Homo sapiens: one gene and its partner. The protein of the gene in region 1 purifies or fractionates together with the protein of each later gene. This does not show direct contact. Each region holds a gene or a part of one and is shown on either strand. Other genes may lie near its edges. The genes, in order: CGB1 and ZNRF2.

The links.
Region 2: the proteins of CGB1 (region 1) and ZNRF2 purify together in Homo sapiens (affinity purification with mass spectrometry; one large-scale study listed by BioGRID and IntAct). This does not show direct contact.

What each region holds. Positions count from the first base shown.
Region 1 is NC_000019.10:49,034,979-49,038,469, reverse strand, and holds CGB1 (choriogonadotropin subunit beta variant 1 isoform 1 precursor), read left to right. Parts: upstream 1-1,574; 5' UTR 1,575-1,758; coding exon 1,759-1,767; exon of another isoform or gene 1,768-1,944; intron 1,945-2,166; coding exon 2,167-2,334; intron 2,335-2,569; coding exon 2,570-2,860; 3' UTR 2,861-2,901; downstream 2,902-3,491.
Region 2 is NC_000007.14:30,322,327-30,326,146, forward strand, and holds part of ZNRF2 (E3 ubiquitin-protein ligase ZNRF2), read left to right. Parts: intron 1-1,315; coding exon 1,316-1,411; intron 1,412-3,820. UniProt on the Homo sapiens protein: E3 ubiquitin-protein ligase that plays a role in the establishment and maintenance of neuronal transmission and plasticity. Ubiquitinates the Na(+)/K(+) ATPase alpha-1 subunit/ATP1A1 and thereby influences its endocytosis and/or degradation.

The DNA of each region.
Region 1 (3,491 bases):
CCAGGAACTGGTCAGGCAGAAAAAGAACAGAGCTGGATGCTGAGAGACCTCAGGGTTGGCCCAGCTGCTCTACGGACGGACCCCAGTTGGGGAACTCATCAAATCATCGCAAAATCTCAACTGTCTGAATTTGAGCTCAATCTCTGTAGGATGGGTGCAACAATGTGGGGTTTTGAAGGTTGAATAGGAACTCTCCCGGGGGAACTTGAGGGTAATCATGATGATGATGATAATAATAATAGCCATTATTTACTGAGTGTTTACTCTTTCGTAGCCCTAATACATAACTCCTCGGATCAACTCTCATGGATTTGATCATTGGTGACCTTTGGTGTTAAGTTGCTGACTGCTCAGTCACAGAGGACACCACCTTGCTCATCCTGGGGAGTGGGAGGGCACATTTCACGATGTGCATGGGGGAGGAGAGAAACTGGAACATGCAAGCAGATGGCCAGGGGACCTTGAGGACATGGTCTACAGAAGGCCTTTAAGTATCTGGGAGCTGGGGTTCAAATGAGAAATCTTACTTGGTGAGAGCAGGCAGGGGTTGGCTTAGAATATTCTGTTTTGAGATAAAGAGCTACCGATCACACGGGGAGTATAAGCAAGGTTCAATGAGAAGTGATCAGGATGCTGGAGAGTTCAGCCCTGGGCGGGGAGCTCAAGTCAGGTTTCTAGCCCTCTTCCCTGTGCCATCCTATACCCTACATTGGGAAAGAAACAGACCTTAAAATTGTCCAGCTTGATGGCATCGCGGGGAAGGGACTAAGTCCAGATAATGTCCTCCGAGGCTGCGGCCTCGGGGGCAGGACACACCTCCTGCGGGCCTATTCAATAATCAGTTAAATCACCCGAAGCACACGCATTTCCGGGGACCGCTCCGGGCATCCTGGCTTGAGGGTAGAGTGGGCAGAGGTCCCTAAGGGAGAGGTGGGGCTCGGGCTGAATCCCTCGTTGGCGGCACCAGGGTCAAGTGGCTAACCTGGCAGCACAGTCACGGGGAGGCCCTCTCTCATTGGGCAGAAACTAAGTCCGAAGCCGCGCCCCTCCTGGGCGAGGAGGTTCCACCTCCTAGGTTCCTGTGATTCTCCTGCCTCAGCCCGAGTAGTGGGACATCCCACTTGCTCCCGCCATTCTGTTTACCACAGGTGACGACCGCCATGGCTGACAGGCAGGGAGGTCCCCCGAGGACCGAGCAAGGCTCGGTATCCCAAAAAAAAAAAAAAAGATACATTGAAGTAATTTAAAAACACTTAGGAAGATGTCATTTCTTCCTATCAAGGCGTCCTCCCTTTATGTTTTGTTGTTATATAGGGAACGATAAAAAAATTTTTTTTTTTTTTCCTACCAATGGGGCCCAGGTTGACCTCGAACTCCAGTCCCTCACACCCTCGCCTAGCCTTGAGAGCCCGAGGGCAGGCTCAATCGGCCGGAGCCACAATGGCTCCGGTTGTCGGGCCCATCCTTTCTTCCCTTTGATCTTACGCAGGGTGATGGAGCCAATCACAAGAGGCTCATCCCTGACGTCACCCAGTCCCCAGGGCCAGTGAGGGCCCTGCGTTCCGTGGCGCCCCCTGGAGGGAGGAAGGGGAACTGCATCTGAGAGAGAGCAGCCAATTGGGTCCGCTGACTCTGGCCAGGTTCCCGTGCCGCGTCCAACACCCCTCACTCCCTGTCTCACTCCCCCACGGAGACTCAATTTACTTTCCATGTCCACATTCCCAGTGCTTGCGGAAGATATCCCGCTAAGAGAGAGACATGTCAAAGGTAGGGTAGATCCACATTTCCGGGCACCAAAGATGGAGATGTTCCAGGAAAGACTGCAGGGCCCCTGGGCACCTTCCACCTCCTTCCAGGCCATCACTGGCATGAGAAGGGGCAGACCCGTGTGAGCTGTGGAAGGAGGCCTCTTTCTGGAGGAGCGTGACCCCCAGTAAGCTTCAGGTGGGTCAGTTCCTGAGGGTGCGGATCTGAAATGTTGGGGTATCTCAGGTCCTCTGGGCTGTGGGGTGGGCTCTGAAAGGCAGGTGTCCGGGTGGTGGGTCCTGAATAGAAGATGCCGGGAAGGGTCTCTGGGTCTTTGTGGGTGGTGTACCATGCGGGATGGGAAGGCCAGGACTGGGGGCTGCAGTCTCAGACCCGGGTGAAGCAGTGTCCTTGCCCCAGAGGCTGCTGCTGTTGCTGCTGCTGAGCATGGGCGGGACATGGGCATCCAAGGAGCCGCTTCGGCCACGGTGCCGCCCCATCAATGCCACCCTGGCTGTGGAGAAGGAGGGCTGCCCCGTGTGCATCACCGTCAACACCACCATCTGTGCCGGCTACTGCCCCACCATGGTGAGCTGCCCGGGGCCAGGGCAGGTGCTGCCACCTCAGGGCCAGACCCACAGAGGCAGCGGGGGAGGAAGGGTGGTCTGCCTCTCTGGTCAGGGGCTGCGGAATGGGGTGTGGGAGGGCAGGAACAGAGGGCTTCCTGGACCCCTGAGTCTGAGACCTGTGGGGGCAGCTGGGGAGCTCAGCTGAGGCGCTGGCCCCAGGCACATGCTCATTCCCCCACTCACACGGCTTCCAGACCCGCGTGCTGCAGGGGGTCCTGCCGGCCCTGCCTCAGGTGGTGTGCAACTACCGCGATGTGCGCTTCGAGTCCATCCGGCTCCCTGGCTGCCCGCGCGGCGTGAACCCCGTGGTCTCCTACGCCGTGGCTCTCAGCTGTCAATGTGCACTCTGCCGCCGCAGCACCACTGACTGCGGGGGTCCCAAGGACCACCCCTTGACCTGTGATGACCCCCGCTTCCAGGACTCCTCTTCCTCAAAGGCCCCTCCCCCCAGCCTTCCAAGTCCATCCCGTCTCCCGGGGCCCTAGGACACCCCGATCCTCCCACAATAAAGGCTTCTCAATCCGCACTCTGGAGGTGTCTTTCTGTGGGCTCAGGGCAATCACACACACAGGGTGGGTCCAGCTTCCAAACTATTTTATACAGAGTCACAGTACAGAACTCTGGTAGAAAACAGGGTGGACGGCTGGGCGTGGTGGCTCACGCCTGTAATTGTCGGAGGCTGCGGTGGGTGGATCAGCTGAGGTGAGGGGTTCCAGACCAACATGACCAACATGGAGAAACCCCATCTCTACTAAAATTACAAAATATCGTCGGGCGTGGTGGTGCATGCCTATACTCCCAGGTACTTGGGAGGCTTAGGCAGGAGAATCTCTTGATCCTAGGAGGCGGAGGTTGCAGTGAGCCAAGATCCCGCCATTGCACTTCAGCCTGGGCAACAAAAACAAAGCTCCATCTCAAAAATTAGTAATAATAATAATAATAATAATAATAATAATATAATTAAAAACGTTCGTCCAGGCGCAGTGGCTCATGCCTGCAATCCCAGCACTTTGGGAGGCCGAGGCAGGTGCATCACCTGAGTTCAGGACTTCGAGACCAGCCTGGCCAACATGGTGAAACCCTGTCTCTACTAAAAAAAAAAAAAAAAATTAGCTG
Region 2 (3,820 bases), on another chromosome or scaffold:
TCTAGCCTCACTCATTTGGTTGCAGTGAGTTTCACATCACAGTGAAGGGAGGACAGTTCCTGTGAGAACACATGTGTTGGAACTAGAGAGCTGCCAAAACGTCTCTTTCACCACCCATCTTATTAGTTGTCTCTCACAGTGCTTCTGTTCCTGTCTACACTCTAGCTTCATGTGGCCTTCTTTCTTGTGCTTGCCTATAGTTTCTGTTCTCTCGTAAGTTCAGCTTACACCTGAGCCGTCATGGACACCACTGTCTCTCTTTTACTTACTTTTGACCTTTCTGCTTAAGCTCTTTACTGCTGGCCAATATAGTCTCTCACTGTTTCTTAATCATATTTCCAAAAAAAAAAAAAATTGATTGGCCTATGCCATCTTTTTGTTCCACTTCTGATTTGTGCCTAGCCAAACTATAAGTTGGCTATCTGGGTTCAGGTTTCCAAACAGCTTAGTGGTGTCAGGGGAGGGAGCAGTAGGACAGCAGGGGAACATGGTATATCTGAGGACTGTCTTAGCAGCAAGAAGGCAGGGATGGGACACTTCACCTTGGTAAGTGAGGGGGCAGAACAGAGCTGAATACATCAAATAGTCCCTATTTTATTATGCTAGTTTATTTTTAATGGAGTACTTCAGGCAAATACTTAGTAGTGCAGATTGAATAATGTAGGAAACTAGCTAATTTTTAAGTGTCAAAAATTGACTGCAAAAACCTGTACCCCGATCTGATGCTAGTTTCTGTTTTCATTATGACTTCAGTGCCATGGTGTGGCAGAAAGACCATTAAAGTAGAAGTCAGGAGTCTTAGATTCTAGACCTGTTTTTGCTGTTCTGAAAGGCTTCACGTTCTGCATCAGATAAAATTTTAAGGTTATTGAGGTAGAATAGTGTCTAAGGTGCTGTTTAGCTATAAAACTTGTGACTCACAGTGTACTATACCAAGTTGGTAAAGGTAATTTCCACAAGAGTAGTCAGATTACAAAGCTTGTAATAACATGAAATCATGAGTACAGGTTAATGTAAAAAATTAAAAACGAGAATACCTGGACCAGTACATCAGAGAGAGATACAGGAGTTTGTAGTGGACTGCATCCCTCTCATTTTAACTTGTTTTGTTTGATGAGGAGATCATCTTCATAAACTGATACAAAAGTCAGATATTATAATCACAAAATTTTCCTGACTTGAGTTGCACATAAACAGTGTAATGCAGTAAGTGTAATATTGAAGTTTCAAACGCTTTTTGATTTTCCATGCTTTTTAAAAGCCATAGCTGGATATTCAGAATAGTTAAGTAACTTGAGTTTCTTTTGTTTTTTAGGATTTAAGTGCCCTGTATGCTCAAAATTTGTATCCTCAGATGAAATGGATTTGCATCTTGTAATGTGTTTAACAAAGCCACGAATAACCTATAATGGTAAGTCCAATGGTTTAAAATAATATTTTAAGTTAGAATTAACTTACATTTTATGAATTTCATGTTTCAAGTATAATTTAAAAGGAGGGAAGGACATTGTTTTCTCTATTTTTACTAGTGCATTAATGCAGTGGTTCTCAAATTCTGTGATCTCAAGACTTCTTTACACTTCAAAAAATTACTGAGGACTTCAAAGAGTTTTTCTTTACTTGGGTTATATCTATCCATATTTGTCATAAATTAAAACAGAATTTATAATTTTTAATTTATTTTGTTAAACATAAATATAATTATGTTGACAACTTTTAAATGAAAAGTAAATTTTCTAAGACAAAATATTTAGTGACAAGAGTGGCATTTTCAGGATTTTTACAAACTCTTTAATATCAGGCTTCATGACAAGGAATTCTCACATCTGCTTCTTCATTCAGTTTATTGTGATATGGCACGTCTTGTGTCCTCTGGAAAACTCTGCTGCTATACTGGAGAGAATGGGAATGAAAAAGGCAGATATGGCCAGGCACAGTGGCTCACACCTGTAATCCCAGCACTTTGGGAGGCCGAGGTAGGCAGATCACCTGAGATCCCAAGTTTGAGACCAGCCTGGCCAACATGGTGAAACCCCATCTCTACTAAAAGAAAAAAAAAAAGAAAAAAAAAAATTAGCTGGGTGTGGTGGTGCACACCTGAAATCCTAGCTACTCGGGAGGCTGAGGCAGGAGAATCGCTTGAACCCAGGAGGCGAAAGTTGTAGTGAGCCGAGATTGTGCCACTGCACTCCAGCCTTGGAGACAGAGTGAGACTCTGTCTCAAAAAAAAAAAGAAAAAAAAACAAAAACAAACAAACAAAAAAACAGATACTTAGTGTTACCATGAAAATAGTTTTTACTTTGTTAATCTAAAAGGATTTCAAAGGCTCTTCCACTTCTCCTACTGTACAAGATTCTTTGGACCACAGTTTGAGAACTGCTGCATTGAAATAAAATCTTTTGGGTTAAGCCTAAGTAAAATGTAATGTTCATAATGGCCATTTTCAAAAGTAAGTAAGCATGGTTGAAATTGCAACTTTTTTCTTTTTGTTTAAGAGTATAGAGTAAATGAAGGGAACATATATGAGGAGTAGGGAGAATAAAAGTTTATTCAATAGTAAATAGATGCCTAATGGGAGAAAAAAGTCATTAAGAGAAACCCAAAACTCTACCTATGCAGTGCATATGTGTCTCTGTCTTTCCTCCCATATACAAATTTAGTCTGTGAGCTCTGGAGCGAACTGGTATTTTTTTAGGTCTGGTGTTTTAGACTGTACCATTCTTTCCTGACCAAAATCTCTAGATATTCCAAAACCTAGGAAAGATTTTAAATGTAGCCTTGGCATACTTTGGAATAGACTTGGGGGGGAAAAATCAAGTAGTTCTGTCCTAACCAATGAATAGAATAAAATGAAGGAAAAATGAAAGTTGTTTTCAAAATTTTATAAAGAAACAGACTTCAAAAGCTTAAGAGAAATTTCATTTTTTTTAAATATAAATTTTGGCCTGAAATAAAATGTGTAGAAAGGGTACCAGTAAACACTATAGCCAATTGAAAGATTGGCTAAATTCAACATATATTTTGAGCATCAATTATGTGCGAGGTACTGTGTTAGGAATTAGAGATATAGCAGTGAATGAACAGAAATGGAGCTTACAGCCTACTAATAGTAATAGTCACTGATTTCTTTGAGCTAAGAATTATTGGTTAAATAAAAAGGTTCTATGAAAAACTTAGTAGATATAGCAGCACTTATCTGAGCTTTCTCCTCAGGTAACAAAAATGTTGGGAGGGGTAGAATTTAACATTGAAATGAGCATATTACTTTTGGTAGTGTTTTGCAAGTTGATCTAAGAATCAGTCTCTCAATTCTTCCCTTTCCTTCACTTTTTCTAGTATGGTGGTGCTTCAGCCACCCTATTACAGGGTTGACAATAGAGCACTTTTTGCCATTCATTTGCTGATGAAATGTGAAAGTGGTTTTAAGCAGTTACTTGGCATAATAAATGTATTTGTTGATTATATCCTAACCTTTTTGCATTATGAAATTGAATTGGCTACTTTGCATTATCTACTTCAAGTTTAGTTATTTAAGAAATAGAAAGTGTTCTCATTCAAAATTTGTGACTAAAAGTATATGGGTTTGTTTTTCATACCTGCTCCACTATCTTATATTCTATAATTGTTTATGTTTAATATGAGTGCCTTTAAATATCCATAAATCTTAAAGCTTCTGGCTTTCAATTTGAAAATCACAAATATATTTGACCATATAATAATATATTTACACACAGTCTTAGTATTCTGTATGTTTACTTTTTGTGTAATATATCTAGAATACAGTCTTCTTGTGTATTGTGATATTTAACAATTTTTTTA